Linked DNA regions of Homo sapiens. The protein of the gene in region 2 interacts with the protein of the main gene of each other region in a pairwise test. Each region holds a gene or a part of one and is shown on either strand. Other genes may lie near its edges. The genes, in order: GABPB1, USO1, GAK, UTP14A and AKAP9.

Region 1 (3,518 bases), on a different chromosome or scaffold from region 2:
CCTCTGCTTCCTGTTCTTTCTTTAGGAGCTGCTGTCGATATTTTTGTGCTTCTCGATTTGCTTCATCCAGCTGTTTCTGAAGAGCTTCTCTCTCCTAATTAAAAGAAGAGGGTTTTTTTTTTAATTTTTGCAAAAATACATTATTAATACATATAAGCATGCATCCTTCAAATTAAAAAAAAAAACCGTAGTAGCTAAAAGCAGCCACCTATTGAAATTTCCTAGACATCTTGCCTTTTCAATCAATTCACTAACATTTAAGTCCCTAATTTTGTGCTCCACATTATGAGATATGGATTAATTTCTGACTGCAAGGAAATTATTTTCCTATTTAGAAATAAGACTAACAGAAAGACTCCAAACTGGGCACCTGTACTTTTATATGTACTACAAAAACTAGTGAAGAGTTTTTAAGAGGGAAATATACAACCATACCTCTTTATATTTCCATTTGTGGTGCTCTTACCAAAAGGTAATAATTATAAAACAATTTTACTGAGCACCCACTATATGAGTAAACAGGGTGATTTCCAACAATAAGCATCTAAGACAGATATTATGCACAAGTTAAAGATGAGAAAAATGATGCTCAGGGATGATGTAGCTCTCCCAAGGTCACATAGTAAGAAGTTGGATTTATAGGGTTCTAACATTACTGCTTTTAAAACTATTTTCATTTACAATAGCAAGCAAGATAATTCACCTTTAAAATGAAGAGTGCTGATCAAGATCAGTATTTCCTAAATTATACTATTTCATAAACCAATAAAATACTAAATTATCAATGATTAAATTATATAGGTATAAAATATATGCATTAAATTCCTCAACAAATTGAGAGCTGAAACACAAATCCAATCCAATGAAAACGGTATTGTTTCTCCTCTTCCTCCTCACTCTGCCCCATTCAGTTATTGCAGGAAAAACAAGGAGAAACATTTCAACGAACCCATTCCCACACCTCTAAGTGAGCACAAGGACAAAAGCTCAACCTCCACAGACCAAAGCTCAAGGGTAGTTTCCAGGTCTTAGGAATGAGGCAACCTCATCACAGATGCCCAGGACCTCTGAGTGGGGTGAAGGCCAGGGGTCGGACTATCACAAGAATGATAGGTCCACAGTGGACAAGACACTTGGCCAGAGAGAACTAAAGGTAAGTGGTTGGCCGACCACTGGGGAGGCACAGTATGAGATTCTCTTTCTATATATCCTATTATGTATATCCTCTGCCTCCTTGACTCCTGCCCATTGTGAACACCAAAGGATTCCTCACCTTCTCTATTCATATGGTTGGTCCACAAGCAGGAGCATGTATAATCCTCCTGCCTTTCTGTGATTCCACTTCCTTCCCCACAATGGGAATGAAGCTAGATCCAACATTTCTTTTTCTCATGGGCCCACCAGATGTGGGAGTGATTCATTTGGAGACAAAAGATCTCCAAATCTTCCAATTACACAAAATGTACAAGTAGAAGAAAGGAATGTCCCTTACTCCCAGTTTAAGCAATGCCCAGGCCCTATCCTGCTGCCTCCCAACACTTCTTCTCCCCTCCTCTTATCCTAAATCCAGCCAAGATAGGAACAAGTCAGAAAAGACAACCTAGGATGAGTCCAAGGTAAGCAATCAATGCCAGTACCCTGGCTACAAACTGTGCAGGACTTTAAGGACACCAATGGAAGGGGTGAGGGGTGGAAGGTTGGATGTTACTTCCCAGGAGCTAGACCACAGCTCTGGCAGGAGTGTCCACAGCCATGCACGTGTTTTAAAATTTTACGTGTGGCTGGGCACAGTGACTCACACCTTAATGCCAGCACTTTGAGAGGCCAAGGCAGGCAGATCACTTAAGCCCAGGAATTTGAGACAAGCCTGGGCAACATGGCAAAACCCCTACAAAAAATACAAAACTTAGATGGGCATGGTGGTATGCGCCTGTAGTCCCAGCTACTTGGGAAGCTGAGGCAGGAGGATCACTTGAGCCCAGGAGGTTGAGGCTGCAGTGAGCAACTCCACCGCACTCCAGCCTGGGTGACAGAGCAAGACCTTGTCTCAAAAGAAAAAAAAAAGAAAAAAGAGAAAACAAACAAAAACTTACATTATGTGAAAAATAAGAGCAATCCTTTGGTAGCCAAAGTTTTGAATATGGGTATAAATTTACCTTGATTTAGCAGGAAATATTGGAAGAGGTTAACTCTAAAGCATCTTCTAGTATTACCTATTTATTAACATTTAGAGTCAGGAAAGGATTCACAATTATTGCAGAAGATGAAAGCAAACCGAGTGAGGTAGTCTAACAGTGAAAAGAACCTAATCCTATTTTCCATACTGCATATTTTAACTTCAAGAAGTACAATTTATCTTGATAAAAATGAAAAGATAGTTTCCTTCTGCCTACCAGGTGAAATAAAAAACTCATTTTCACAGCATTTTTTGGCTAATTCTATAAAACCTAGAAGACAAAGATCATTAGCACTGCATGCTGAATACATTTAATCTTTAAGATTGAAAGTATAATTAACACTATAATTTTTTTTTCTTTTTGAGACGGAGTCTTGCTCTGTTGCCCAGGCTGGAGTGCAGTGGCATTATCTCAGCTCACTGCAACCTCCACCTCCCGGATTCAAGCAATTCTCCTGCATCAGCCTCCTGAGTAGCTGGGACTATAGGCGCACGCCACCATGCTCAGCTAATTTTTTGTATTTTTAGTAGAGACGGGGTTTCACCATGTTAGCCAGGATGGTCTCAATCTCCTGACCTCGTGATCTGCCCGCCTTGGCCTCCCAAAGTGCTAGGATTACAGGCGTGAGCCACTGCGCCCGGCCTAAATGTTTTTTAAAAGAGAGAAACTGGGCAGGATATGTGAGCTATTTGCTTGTGTGTAAACATCAATTTTCTAACTGCCCTGAGCCAAATATGACAAGTATGATTTTGTTTTTATAAATAAAGTTTTATTGAAATACAGCCACACCCACCCATTTTCAAATTGTCTATGGCTGCTTTCACTACAATGGCAGAATTGAGTAGTTGACAGACTGTAGGGCCCACAAAGCCAAAAATATTTGGTACCTGGCCATTTATGAAAAAAAACTTTGCCTTCTCCAGCCTTAGAAAAAAGAGATATAGACTGGGTGCTGGGCATGCAGTGGCTCATGCCTGTAATCCTAGTATTTTGGAAGGCCAAGGCAGGTGGATTGCTTGAGCCTAGGAGTGAGAGACTAGCCTGGGCAACAGGGCAAAACCTCATCTCAAAATCCTGACCTCAAGTGATCCTCCCACTTCAGTCTCCCAAAGTGCTGGGATTACAGGCATGAATTACCATGCCCAGCCACAAAACCTTATCTCTACAAAAAAATACAAAAATTGGCTGGGCATGGTGGTGTAGCCTGTAGTCCCAGCTACTCAAGAGGCTGTGAGGTGGGAGGATTGCTTGAGCCCAGGGAGGTCAAGGCTGCAGTGAACTGTGATTGCACCACTGCACTCCAGCCTAGGCAACACAGTGAGACCCTGTCTCAAAAAATAA
Region 2 (3,518 bases):
CCACCACTTACTCAGTGTCTCCAGACATTACCAAATGTCCTCGGGGATGGGGGGATATGGGGAGAAATCACTCCTGCTGAGAGCCATTGTTATAATTGCCTTTCTTTTCCTGTACTTTTTTTGGGGGAGGAGAAGGTGAGAAGTTTGGAAATTCAACATTAATAAAAACTTTCAATTAATACCCTGGTTTTCATTATAGTACTACTGCTTTCATCTGTGTTTGGTGGTCCCTAGTCTAAAGATGTCCTGTTTTGCCCAGCCACATAATAAACCTCAAGTCTTCATCCAGGAAAGGAGGAACGGTTGCCTGATGCCTAAGATTGAGACAGGGATCTGATGATCTATTTCTTAAATAGTCTTTTAACCAGGCCTGCAGTTTTTAACCTCATTTTTATCTGTACTTCCAGTGGTATCTAATGATACCAGTTCCTAACCTTTCTGGTAGTTAATGCATTCATTGTAAGTCAGGTACTATCTTAACTTTCTCAGTGGTCATCCTAGCTTTCAGCTTTCTCAGGTGTGCTGATTTAGTTATCACTGTTACTTGCTTTCTCAAAATTCCCCAATTATATTGCTCTCTTCTCTTACTGTTCTTGTTTTTGTAGGTTTCTTCCTCTCTCCCTCCCATCCTTCCTTTCTTTCTTCCTTCTCCCCTCCCTTCCTGTCTTTTATGATTTTTTTTTTTTGCATGGGATTTCAGGAGGGAGCAGAGGTAAATGAATGTGTTGAATTTTCCATCTTGAACCCAAAATTCAAGAATAGTTCTTTAGAGTTAGATTTTAAAAGTAGGAGGTTGTAAATCATTTTTTTAAATGTCTCCCTGTAAATATTTCCTTGATGAATTTAATACCATTTAATGTTATGACTCAACTATTTTTGTCTCTTAGGAACTGGCAACTTTAAAGTCTCAGTTAAACTCACAATCTGTGGAGATCACCAAACTACAGACAGAAAAGCAGGAACTGTTACAGAAAACAGAAGCGTTTGTAAGTATTTTCTCTTTTTTCTCTGGAAGGTAATAAAGACAAGGTTGATGTATTATTTCTTAGCCACAATTAAAAAGAAACAAATTCATCAGATAGCACCTTCTCTTTAGATTACTTACTAGCCGGTATTCTAGTAACATAGGCTTCATGTTCATGGTGACAGTCGTTTTATAGTCAGTCTCACCAGATTAGTTTATTCAGTTACTTAATAGTTTATTTTGCTGGTATTACATTCTATTTCTGTCCCTTCAGTCCAAGCTGGCAGTTTTTCTGCTGTCATAAAATATTCAGAAACCGTTGTTGTTTTCTCCAGAACATTCCTTCTCATACTTTTGCAATATAGGTAGACTGAGAATTTTCCAAATCTTCTAATTCTGATTCTTTTTTGCTTAGCAATTTCTTCTTCAATTTATCTCTCTTCTCTCACATTTAACTTTAAGCAACAAGGAGAAACCAGGCTGCACTCCAACACTTTGCTTAGAAACCTCAGTAAAATATCCAAATTCATTATTTACAAGTTCTGCTGTCCACAAAACACTGCAACACTATTTGGCCAAGTTATTTGCCACTTTATAACAAGGATTGCCTTTCCTCCGATTCCCAGTAACATGTTCCTAGTTTTCATCTGAGACCTCACCAAAAGCACCTTTAACATTCATATTTCTGCCAGCATTCTTCTTCTCACTATGACCATGAAGCTTCTTTCCAACTCCGCTCTTTTCTTTCTGAGCTCTCACCAGAATCACTTAATGTCCATATCTCTAGCAACAGTCTCATCAAGGTAATGCAGGCTTTGTCTACCATGCACCTCTCTTACAGCCTCTACTCATTACACAGTTCCAAAGCTACTTCCACATTTTTAGATATTTGTTGTGTCACTACCCGACTTCCTAGTATTTTAGAAAAAAGACAAGGAAAGACTGAAAAACTGTTATTCAGGAGTGTCTCCTCTAGCACTTGAGAAAAGATTTGCATTTCACTAATAATGATATTTGGCTCAATTTATCTACCTATCTAGGGTGGTAGTATGGACTTATAGGAAATTTATGAAGGAAAGGCTTTGAAAAATATTCTGTGTTTATTAAATGCTGGGTTACAGTTACATTAGAGCTGCCTTGCTGATTACTTTTCTGGGCTTACCTACCTTGAGGCACCTTAGCCCAGCCTTCCTCGTACTCTTATGAGATTTGATGCTCTTCCATGTGGGAACAGCTCATCTGACAGTGGAGAGCACTTTGTTGCACATAAATACATAAGGAATTATATTTTCTGTTAGTGAAAGTAAAATATCAAAATGGCAAAAAAATTAAATAACCCTTTGGGAGTTCATATTGATTGTAATGTTTAAGAGACATCTTTTTTTCCAATTTCTAATTTCAGGCAAAATCAGTTGAGGTACAAGGAGAGACCGAGACTATAATAGCCACCAAAACTACTGATGTAGAAGGAAGACTGTCAGCATTATTACAAGAGACCAAAGAGTTAAAGGTTTGTTTTTGGTGCAACTTTTATTTACTGCATATGATATGAAATGAACTCTAGGAAATTTTATATATCTTTCAAATTCTTAGATTTATGAAGAAAGCTAATGATGTGTAATTTTATCTCACAACATTTTCACTCCTATATTGATGATTTAAGATGGCACAAATGAAAATTTTTTTTGTTTTGGGTTTTTTTGTTTTGTTTTGTTTTTTTGAGATGGAGTTTCGCTCTGTCACCAGACTGGAGTACAGTGGCGCGATCTCGGCTCACCACAACCTCTGCCTCCCAGGTTCAAGCAATTCTCCCGCCTCAACCTACTGAGTAGCTGGGACTACAGGCGTGCACCACCACACCCAGCTAATTTTTGTATTTTTAGTACAGACAGGGTTTCACCACGTTGGCCAGGATGGTCTCCATCTCTTGACCTCGTGATCCACCTGCCTTGGCCTCCCAAAGTGCTGGAATGCTGGAATTACAGGTGTGAGCTGCCGCACCCAGCCACAAATGAAGCTTTTAAAATACTATTTCAAATAATGATAATATGTAAGATAAGCATACATATGCATGTACTATAAAAGTAAAATTTATTGAAAATATTTTTGTTTTCTTTCTTTCTTTTTCTTTTTTTTTTTGAGAGAGAGTCTCAATTTTGTGTTCCAGGCTGGATGGAGTGCAGTGGCATGATCTCAGCTCACTGCAGCCTCCACCTCCCAGATTCAAGCGATTCTCCTGCCTCAGCCTCCTGAGTAGCTGGGATTTCAGGCACCTGCCAACATGCTCAGCTAATTTTTGTACTTTTAGTAGAGACGAGGATTCGCCATGTTGGCCAGGCTGGTCTCAAACTCCTGACCTCAGGTGATCTGCCCGCATTGGCCCCCCCCAAAGTGCTGGGATTACAGGCGTGAGCCACCACACCCGGCCTGTGTTTTCTTTTTAAGATCAACATCTAATCACAATAACAAAACAAGGAGTACAAATTTAGCTAATACACAAGCCACATGTAGGCTTTCCATAAGCCGTGGAACATAGGCACATTAAATCCTGTCA
Region 3 (3,518 bases), about 75 Mb from region 2:
GCTGCGGTCCTGAGGGAGGCGGCCATGGAGAGCTGGCTGCCAGGCGAGAGGCACTTACCCAGGTGCAGGAAGTCGGCGCTGCAGGATGGGGGCGGAGCACTGTGGGCAGACGGGAAGGATGGTGGGACGGTCACAGAGTCCGAATTGAGAAATTCGCCGAAGAGATCAGGATTGGAGCAGGGCTGGGAGTTGTTGCCTGAAGACGGCAGAAGCGGGCCAAAGGGGTCAGCTGTGGGGACAGGCGGGCATGGGGAGGACTCAGCCCGGCTGCCTGAAGACAAAGGAGCCCAGCTCTGGAGTCAGGCCTGCCCAAGAGGCCACTCCAGCTGGGCAGCCCAGACCCCACGGCTGCCCTCGCAGGGGCACTGAGGCAGTCAGCCCAGGGGCTCCCCGTGCCCCACGCCTCAGGATGACTTTCCCAGGGACACAGCAACACTGCTGAGATGGAGAAGCCAGTAGCTCCCGGCCCGTGAGCTCAGGTGGGCAGCACAGAACCCTGACATGACCCCGAGGCTGCTCCTGGGGGAGGTGGGGGAAGGGCACGTTCCCTTCCTGCAAGCACCTTCGAAACACGCCCATGCAGTGAGAATGACTCAGCCTCATCACTCATCTACTGTGAAGCCACTCGCCTTCAGAACAGAAACACGTACCAGCGGCAGGGGGCCCTCCTCTTGGGGTGCTCTGCACGCTCAGGGGAGGGGCCGGGCTTGCCAGGAGCAGCGGGTCCTCGCTGAGCAGATCCTCCGGGGGCCCCTGGGAGGCGGCCTCAGGGGGCCCAAGGAGGCAGCTGAGCAGGTCGGTGTTGCTGGAGGGGGCCTTGCAGGCCTGCGGGGGTACAGCTGGCCCTGCGCCCACCTCGGAGTGCAGGCCCAGGAGGTCGACCCCGTCTTCCTGTGGCACAGGCTCTGGCAGCACAGCCGGTGTCTCCACCTCAAAAACCAAGTCCTGCTGCACCAGCCCTGCTGCCAGGCCGGGGGGCTCTGGGTCGGCCCTGGGTTCCTGGCCCTCGCTGGAGATCGGGGATCCCCCTTCATCTGACACCTCACTCTCGTCTCTGTCCTCCATCAGGGCAGACTCGCTCTCCTTGGAAGAGGCATTTTCTGCACCAGTCTCTGCCTCCTTCTCTTCTGCGAAAAGGAAACAAAACCACAGGCTAGTGAGACCACACGGCCAGCACCAGGGTCCCCACGGCGCGTCCCTTCAGGGCCTCCTCGGCCCAGGGCCTTGGTGAACACACGTGGCCAGCACCAGGGTCCCCACGGCGCGTCCCTTCAGGGCCTCCTCGGCCCAGGGCCTTGGTGAACACACGTGGCCAGCACCAGGGTCCCCATGGCATGGCCCCTCGGCACCTCCTCGGCCCAGGGCCTTGGCAAGTGCTGCAGGAACACCAGGGTCCCCACGGCGCGTCCCCTCAGCCCAGGGCCTTGGCGAACCCACATGGCCAGCACCAATGTCCCCATGGCACGGCCCCTCAGCGCCTCCTTGGCCCAGGGCCCTGGCGAGTGCTGCAGAAGCTTCTGGGCGGGCGGTGGGGTGTTGTTCCTGAGGCGTCTCCAGCACACCCACCTCCAGCCTCTGCCTCAAGGGTCTGCCTGTGGCTCTCTCCGCCTGGGCCTCTGCGGTGCCTCAGGCTGAGTCAAGTGGGGGCCACATGGCAGCACTAGGGGGTAGGAACACCAATCAAGGGTGCTCTGGGAACAGGCGGCAGAAGGGACGAGCCCGATGGGAAGGCCAGGGGTGCTGGGACAGGAAGTGGCAGGTGCATCCCTTGGGGTGTGTCTGGGGTGAGGTCCAGTGATGGCGCCCAGGTGTTTTCCTGAAAAGCCTCAGAGGGGCTGGGAGCCCACTGGGGGTGTGGGCAAAGAGAGGTGTGGGATCCCCAGGTGGTGACAGTCTGTCCCTCCGCCCAGGCCCTTCCCCTGTACCCAGGGGCCCCGCCAGCATGGCCCATGCTGCCAGCCTCCCCAGGCCCACAGACTGGGATGAAGAGCGAGGGTTGTTATTTCAGACTTTGTGGGCATGTTCTTTTTTTTTCACCTTTAAAAAGATATGAAATCATTCTTAGCTCGTGAGCCATTAAAGAACAGGCTGACATGCCGGGTGCACAGCCCCACTGAGGTGCAACTCAGCTCTGCCGGAGGCCCGTCTCCCAAGACGCTTGCCCTGCCCCAGGGGCACCTCCAGACCAGGGGCCTGCCCTCTGCAAGTGGCCAGGTCCAGGGACGCTGCCTACCCTGCCAGTCCAGCGTGTGCAGGAAGCGACTGGCGTCCGCGCTGCTGCTTGGCGGTGAGTCAGAGTCTGTGGGTTCGGCTTCCGGGGACCCTGCCCCAGCATCATACTGAGCCGTGGAGCCAGGCTGCCGGGGAAGCTCCGGCTTCCCTGCAGGAGAGGGAGGGCGTCAGGGCACTGGCACTGGCCAGCAGCCTCGGGGCAACACTGACCCCAGAGCTGGGAAGTGCAGCCAGGCGGGCGCCAGCACCGTGGCAGGCCAGGCCATCGGTAAAGCAGACCAATGACATGACGGGGAGGGGCTCTCTGAACAGATTCCTGCTATCCACTCGGATGCCACTCTGGGCCATGCGTGCACACTTGGGCACAGCACACGCACACATGAACACGCACAAGGAACCCACCACTGAGGCATCAAACGCCACACATATGCAGGGTACACATGAATGCACACACACAGCTGCACGGTACACACGAATGCATAGAGCACACACACAGGCGCACAGTACACACAAATGCACACACACAGATGCAGGGTACACACGAATGCACACACAGCACACACAGATGCACAGTATACACGAATGCACAGACAGCACACACATAGATGCAGGGTACACATGAATACACACAGCACACACAGATGCACAGTACACATGAATGCACACACAGATGCATGGTACACACGGATGCACAGACAGCACACACACAGATGCAGGGTACACATGAATGCACACACAGCACACACACAGATGCACAGTACACATGAATGCACACACAGCACACAGATGCACAGTACACACGAATGCACACACAGCACATACACACATGCAGGGTACACACGAATGCAAAGCACACACAGATGCACGGTACACATGAATGCACACACAGCACAAATGCACAGTACACAGGAATGCACACACAGCACACACAGATGCATGGTACACAGGAATGCACACACACAGATGCACAGTACACACGAATGCACACACAGCACATACACACATGCAGGGTACACATGAATGCACACACACAGATGCACAGTACACACGAATGCACACACAGCACATACACACATGCAGGGTACACATGAATGCACACACACAGATGCACAGTACACACGAATGCACACACAGCACATACACACATGCAGGGTACACATGAATGCACACACAGCACACACAGATGCACAGTACACATGAATGCACACAGTACACACAGATGCACAGTACACACGAATGCACACACAGCAGAGATGCATGGTACACACAAATGCACACACACAGGC
Region 4 (3,518 bases), on a different chromosome or scaffold from region 2:
TAGCTCATTATCATGTGACACAACTTACAATCTTCTCATTCTCCTGAACAAGTACCGGTTTGTCTTCATTTTTCTTAAGCTACAGCTTAAACCTTATAGCCTCTGTTTGAGCATTACCTTGACTCTAAACTTTTTTCCTGGCCAGTAATTAAAACAGCGTAGTCTATCTGAAATGATAAATCTAACAGCCATTCAGTGAAAACAACAGATTTGATTCTGCGGTCAAGATCACACGTCTCTCTTGACTACAGATCACTAGAATACTCCTCTCAAGCAAGAGAGCCAGGCAGTAACAAGCAGGCAGCTAAAGAGCTCTCTAAGCTCTCACCTGATGAGCAGCTGCGTGGATGTTGCGCTTCTCATTGATAATCACATTTGGCAAATTCTTATCTTTTCTTGGAGGACCCTCAGGGGCTTTAATGAGAAACCTGGAAAGCAAAACAACAGGACATCTGACTAGGAGCATTAAGGACTTAGTCAAAAGGGTAGGGAGGACACCGAAGGGCGAGGGGAGAACCCGGTGCCCTTTTGACAGACTTTCTTCGGCATTCTTACCGGCGTCTTTTCTTGGCACTGGGCTTTAGGCCCACACCACCCCACTCGCCCCAGCCAGGTAGTGTCAGGTCCACGTCCTTTGGCTTACTCGCCTCCACAGCTTCCCTCTTCTCTTTCAAGAAATCTCTGATGACATCATCCCCAGCAAAAGCTTCCTTTATCATCTGCCTATGGTTTCTCTCCTCTTCATCTTCCTGGGAAGAAACAAGCGAGAGCTACAGCTTGGCTTATGAGCTGTGGTTCATGGCGAGAACGCTTGAATTTCGGGTCGTGACATTTTAGCGCCCCCTAGGGGGAAGTGCTGAACAATGATGGTCTTGCGATACAAACCAGTGCACAGCCAATCATGCTCAAATTTTCTTCCCTCTAGGGTAAATATCCCTAGCTCATTATCATATGACACAATTTTAAACTTTTCAGTAAGGAAGCTGCAGGGTGGAGGAAGGAATGGCCCGTGTTAGCAGCAGGAGCTCTAAGTGGCCAGACTGTAGGCTTCCTCCAGCTTATATCCCTGAAAAGACAGGTGCCAGGACGCTTCACTTTAAGTTTCAGATTAACTGGGGAGTCTTAGACCATCTGAGATCCCACTGAATAAAACTTTCGCAACAGTTCAATGACTCACCTTCAAGTTGTCCTGCCTGGGATCTGGTCAGAACTCTGAGTTACTCCCTCTTACCTCTGAGAGCAGTTTTAGAGTCACCCCAGAGGAGTTTTTGTGGATCAGGCTTTCGGAAATAGGGGTCTTGGCAGCACCCATATATCTGCATCTATTAAAACGTCACTGGGACTAGCCTGGCCCTATACTATTCTGGACCTCTAAACTACTGAAATGTGCCCCCAGCAAAACAAAGCTTCATTACTCCTTGCGCAAGAACGACACTTTCTGAACAATGGCCCACCACCCTGGCTCTGCTCACCAGCTCCTCTATTGTGGGAACTGCCAAAGACTTCACGGAGGGAGATTGTGTGGTTAGGAGGTTCTGTAGGTCGATCATTTGCTCCTTCTTTTTCTTCTCCTTAGGGGCATCAGGGCGATTATTTGGGGTCCTCTCTGACTGCTGCCCTTCTAACACAGGTCTGGGAAGCTCCTTATTTTGAAAACATTCTTCTTTTCCCAGCTCTTCTAGCTCTTCCAGCGTCTGTACTCTCTCTGGTCTCTGTAGCAACAGGGGCTCCTCTTCTTCTGGGGCAGGTTCCTCTCTCTGGACCTGGGGAATAGTCCCCTCTGAACTTGCTTTTTGCTTCCTGGACTGATGGTTTTCCTTCAATTTCTGAGATAGTACTCTCAATTCAGACAGCACCTCCTGGCTGCCAGAATCTGGGGGAAAAAAGAATGAAAACTGTCAGAAAATGAGGTTTGTACGTTGTCTGGTCGGTAAGCATTTGTTGAGCACCCACCAAGTGCTAGGTACCACATAAGACATTATAAAAAGGACAAACGGGGAAAAGAAGATTCTGTACATTGAATCTCCTAGACAGTACACTAATCATAGCAGGCAACGGAGTTTGGTAATTAAAAGTAGCATGTGGCCAGGTGCGGTGGCTCACACCTGTAATCCCAGCACTTTGGGAGGCCGAGGCGGGCAGATCATGAGGTCAGGAGATCGAGACCATCCTGGCTAACACGGTGAAACCCCATCTCTACTAAAAATACAAAAAATTAGCTGGGCATGGTGGCATGTGCCTGTAGTCCAGCTACTCAGGAGGCTGAGGCAGGAGAATCACTTGAACCAGGGAGGCAGAGGTTGCAGTGAGCCGAGATTGTGCCACTGCACTCCAGCCTAGGTGACAGAGCGAGACTCCGTCTCAAAAAAAAAAAAAAAAAAAAAGTAGCATGTGAGATGTTGGATATGGTGGCTCACGCCTGTATGCCAGCACTTTGGGAGGCCAAGGGGGCAGGATAGCTTGAGCCCAGGAGTTCGAGACCAGCCTGAACAACATAGTGAGAACTCATCTCTACCACCTCCACCCCTCCAACAACAACAAAAAATTTCCAGGCATGGCGGTGTGGATCTGTAGTCCCACCTACTTGGGAGGCTAAGCTGGGAGGATTGCTGGAGCCAGAAGGTCAAGGCTGCAGGAAGCTGTGACTGTGCCACTGCATACTAGCCTGGGCAACAGGGCAAGACGTCTCAAAAAAAAAAAAAAAGTAGCATATTGGAAGCAGACGTCCTGGGTCCTATTCCCAGCTTTGCCAATGATCCACTGTATAACTGGGACTGTGGCTTAAGTTCCTCGTGCAGTAAACCCTGCTTGGGAAGATTGCCCCAAGTTCCAAATTTTAAAAAAGGAAGCCACTTTAACAGGTGGCTTCTCAATGTAACTTCATTGTAATTTATGCTTCACTGCTTGTAAAAACCCTATCCAGGATTTTCATCTTGACTCAAGAATTTCTACTCCATATCTTAAAGCAGTATTTCATAATCTGCTGTGGCTGAGTCAAGGGATGAAGTAGCTGCTTTATCCAGTGGATGTAGCTCACACTTTCACTGGCAACATCTGAGCAAATAACACTAGTCTCAAGAGTCTGGAGGGGCTGGCTTGGCACAGTGGCTCACACCTGTAATCCCAGCACTCTGGGAGGCCGAAATGGGTGATTCACTTGAAGCCAGGAGTTTGAGACCAGCCTGACCAACATGGCAAAACCCTGTCTCTACTAAAAATACAAAAATTAGCTGGGCGTGGTGGCATATGCCTGTAATCCCAGCTACTTGCAGGCTGAGGCAGGAGGATTGCTTGAACCTGGGAGGTGGAGCTTGCAGTGAGCCGAGGTTGCACCACTGCACTCCAGCCTGTATGACAGAGACCTGTCTCAAAACAGTCTGGAGGGAAACCTGGCAGTGACATGCTTCTAAACTGTCTTTTTCATTGACTCAAGTTGCCTCCATTCCCAAGTTGATCCTGCTGTCTAGCTTTGGCATGAAGCCATTGTAGCTCCTTAGATCTGGCCTTTGGACACATGT
Region 5 (3,518 bases), on a different chromosome or scaffold from region 2:
GAGTTTCTGTAACTTTCAGCCAAAACTCATTATTTCATATATAAACTCCTAGTAGATATTTCCTAATGCAGTTTTAACATATTTTCTAATATCTTGCCATTTAGAAGAAGATCTACTAATTTATTTGGCTCTCAAGAAATGGAGTAGAGGATATAAACGGCGTAAGAATTAACTGAGATCTCTGCCCCATGCCCACTGCAATCCCCACAAGGTCTCCACACACAAAATTTGATTCATGATACATATGGAGAACTACTATTTTAGTTATAATTGATCCCTGTCACTATCTTCTCTGGGGAAACAACTAATAAGGCAATACTAACTTGAATAAAAGTGAGACCCTAGCCTGGACGTTGTGGCTCACGCCTGTAATCCCAGCACTTTGGGAGGCCGAGGCAGGCGGATCATGAGGTCAGGAGATTGAGACCATACTGGCTAACACAGTGAAACCCCGTCTCTACTAAAAATACAGAAAAATTAGCCGGGCTTGGCAGCGTGCACCTGTGGTCCCAGCTGCTGGGGAGGCTGAGGCAGGAGAATGGCGTGAACCCGGGAGGCAGAGCTTGCACTGAGCCGAGATAGTGCCACTGCACTCCAGCCTGGGTGACAGAGCAAGACTCTGTCTCAAAAAAAAAAAAAAAAAAAAGTGAGACCCTGGAGGAATAAATACAGCCTAACCACAGAGCCCACAATGAGCAATCCTAGTAAACAACAAGGAATTTTATAGTGTGTTCAGTACTAATAGGAGAGAGAGCCTAGATTTTATACCCTATTAGTTTTTCAGAGATCTGTAAATCAGAGAACCTATGAAATCAATCTTTACAGATTAGGACTTTGTATAGTAAAGTTGATTATAGTTCTGAATCATCAAAACAATAATCTTGGGGGCTTTAAGAAATTATTTCTTAAAAGGGGGAAAAACTCTTAGACTTTTACAGAGAAACTTTCACACCACACAAAAATCTCAGAGAACAGTAAACCACAATAAGAATCTTAACTCTGATGGTAACTGAAAACAAACACTACATTGTTAGTGAACAAGGAGGAAAAAGGAATTTTACATATTACAAAAGAATCTATAAATTTAAACAAAGAACCTAAGCAAAACTACTCCTGAAATAATGTTAAATTTTTGAATACTCTGAATATTGAACACTTTTGAATACTGTTAAACCCATGCAAAAATCAACCAAAGCTTTATGCAATGTACCTAGAAGGGCACTAAGTGTTGTAAGTTACAGTTTGGTGATGACTAAGACAAAAAATAAAAGGGGTGTCAATATGACAACAAAGACATCTCATACTAGTGAAGTAGCTACAGATCCCCCATGTTTAAAATGACAGGTCTTTTCATTTTTGAACACTAAGTTACTTTTTTCTCACAGTGTAAATGGACTGGCAATGATCAAGCCAAAAATCCAACAGGTGCCCCTTTAACCAACTGCATGCACTTGTAAAACAGCTGCTCATGGAATGGAATGACTCACTGGCCAACAAAGAAATCAAGCTTCAGCATCATGCTGTTATCAACTCACCAAGAACCTATCACTCAAAGGAAGCAACAATTTAAATTTTGGCAAAGCCCAAAAAGCCTAAAAATATATATATATGGAAGATAATCCCACTGGGGATACGTATTTCTACCCATTCCTCTCTGGTGCTTGAGTGCACACGTTCTCTCTCTCTCCACACATACGGAAAGGATATATATATATTTTATATACATATATAATTAATATTAGATAAAAGAAGTTGGTAACAACCCAATTAAAAAATGGGCAAGGGATATTAATAGACATTTCTCTAAAGAAGATCTACAAATGGGCTAGGCGCAGTGGCTCAGGCCTGTAATCCCAGCACTTTGGGAGGCCGAGGTGGGCAGATCACCTGAGGTCAGGAGTTCAAGACCAGCCTGGCCAACATGGTGAAATCCCATTTCTGCTAAAAATACAAAAAAATTAATCGGGCATGGTGGTGGATGCCTGTAATCACAGCTACTGGGGAGGCTGAGGCGGGCAGATCACCTGAGGTCAGGAGTTCAAGACCAGCCTGGCCAACATGGTGAAACCCCATCTCTGCTAAAAATACAAAAAAATTAATCGGGCATGGTGGTGGATGCCTGTAATCCCATCTACTAGGGAGGCTGAGGCAGGAGAATCACTTGAACCCAGGAGGTGGAGGTTGCAGTGAGCTGAGGTTGCGCCATTGCACTCAAGCCTGGGAGACAAGAGCAAAACTCCATCTCAAAAAAAAAAAAAAAAAAAAAAAGAAATCTACAAGTGGCCAAAAAGTGCATTAAAAGATGATACTCAATATCATTATTCATTAGGAAAATACAAACCAAAACCACAATTAGAAACCACTTAATACCCACAAGGATGAGTATTAAAAAAACAAAAAAACAAAACAAACAAACAAAAAAAACAGAAAACACAACTGTTAATGAGGTTATGGGAAAATTGGAATGTCCTATACATTGCTGATGGGAAGGTAAAATGGTACAGTCACTATGGAAACAGTTTGGCAGTTCCTCAAAAAGTTGAAATATAACTACCATATGACCTTGCTCAGTTCTACTACTAGGTATATACCCAAGAGAAATGAAAACAGGTACTCAAATACATCCATACAAATGTTCACAGCAGCACTATTCACAATAGCCAAAAGACAGAAACAACCCAAATGCCTATCATTGGACAAATTATGGTATATACATACAATGGAATATTATTCAGCCATAAAAAGGAATGAAGTACTGATATATGCAGCAAAATGGATGAACCTTGAAAACATACTAAGTGAAAGAAGCCAGACACAAAGGGTCACATATTATATGATTCCTTTCATATTAAATATCTACAACTGGTAAATCCAGAGAGTGCGTTGGTGATTGTTAGTGGCTAGAGGGAAGAAGCAATGAAGAATATCTGCTTAATGGGCACAGGGTTATATTTTGAGATGGAAAGATGTTTGGGAAGTAGACAGAAGCAGTAGTTGCATAAGATTGTGTTAAGCCACTGTGTTAAGTTCACTTAAAGATGGTTAATTTTGCTTATGAATTTCACCTCAATTAAAAAAAATTATAGCTTCTTTATATCTAGCACCTAGAGAACTCAAAAAGCTCCCAACCATTATTTCATTTATCCTTCAAAACACCTGTTGAGGTACACATCATAAGATTATTCCAACAGACAATAAGGCACAGAATTTGTGATCATTTAAATAAATGTTTGCGGCCGGGCGCGGTTGCTCACGCCTGTAATCCCAGCACTTTGGGAGGCCAAGGTGGACGGATCACAAGGTCAGGAGTTTGAGACCAGCCTGGCCAATATGGTGAAACCCTGTCTCTACTAAAAATAAAAACCTAGCCGGGTGTGGTGGTGGGCGCCTGTAGTCCCAGCTACTCGGGAGGCTGAGGCAGGAGAATAGCTAGAACCCAGGAGGTGGAGGTTGCAGTGAGCCGAGATCGTGCCACTGCACTCCAGCCTGGGTGACAGAGTGAGACTCCATCTCGGGGG

Evidence for each region.
Region 1: the proteins of USO1 (region 2) and GABPB1 interact in a two-hybrid assay, tested with the Homo sapiens proteins (one large-scale study listed by BioGRID and IntAct).
Region 3: the proteins of USO1 (region 2) and GAK interact in a two-hybrid assay, tested with the Homo sapiens proteins (one large-scale study listed by BioGRID and IntAct).
Region 4: the proteins of USO1 (region 2) and UTP14A interact in a two-hybrid assay, tested with the Homo sapiens proteins (one large-scale study listed by BioGRID).
Region 5: the proteins of USO1 (region 2) and AKAP9 interact in binary tests that used the Homo sapiens proteins (3 or more experiments, as listed by UniProt).

Annotation. Positions count from the first base shown.
Region 1 is NC_000015.10:50,278,691-50,282,208, forward strand, and holds part of GABPB1 (GA-binding protein subunit beta-1 isoform beta 2), read right to left. Parts: intron 95-3,518; coding exon 1-94.
Region 2 is NC_000004.12:75,808,066-75,811,583, forward strand, and holds part of USO1 (general vesicular transport factor p115), read left to right. Parts: intron 1-887; coding exon 888-986; intron 987-2,366; coding exon 2,367-2,474; intron 2,475-3,518. UniProt on the Homo sapiens protein: General vesicular transport factor required for intercisternal transport in the Golgi stack; it is required for transcytotic fusion and/or subsequent binding of the vesicles to the target membrane.
Region 3 is NC_000004.12:866,306-869,823, forward strand, and holds part of GAK (cyclin-G-associated kinase), read right to left. Parts: intron 2,381-3,518; coding exon 2,234-2,380; intron 1,128-2,233; coding exon 651-1,127; intron 230-650; coding exon 59-229; intron 1-58. UniProt on the Homo sapiens protein: Associates with cyclin G and CDK5. Seems to act as an auxilin homolog that is involved in the uncoating of clathrin-coated vesicles by Hsc70 in non-neuronal cells. Expression oscillates slightly during the cell cycle, peaking at G1.
Region 4 is NC_000023.11:129,923,150-129,926,667, reverse strand, and holds part of UTP14A (U3 small nucleolar RNA-associated protein 14 homolog A), read right to left. Parts: intron 1,874-3,518; coding exon 1,473-1,873; intron 750-1,472; coding exon 556-749; intron 429-555; coding exon 329-428; intron 1-328. UniProt on the Homo sapiens protein: May be required for ribosome biogenesis.
Region 5 is NC_000007.14:91,947,356-91,950,873, reverse strand, and holds part of AKAP9 (A-kinase anchor protein 9), read right to left. Parts: intron 1-3,518. UniProt on the Homo sapiens protein: Scaffolding protein that assembles several protein kinases and phosphatases on the centrosome and Golgi apparatus. Required to maintain the integrity of the Golgi apparatus. Required for microtubule nucleation at the cis-side of the Golgi apparatus.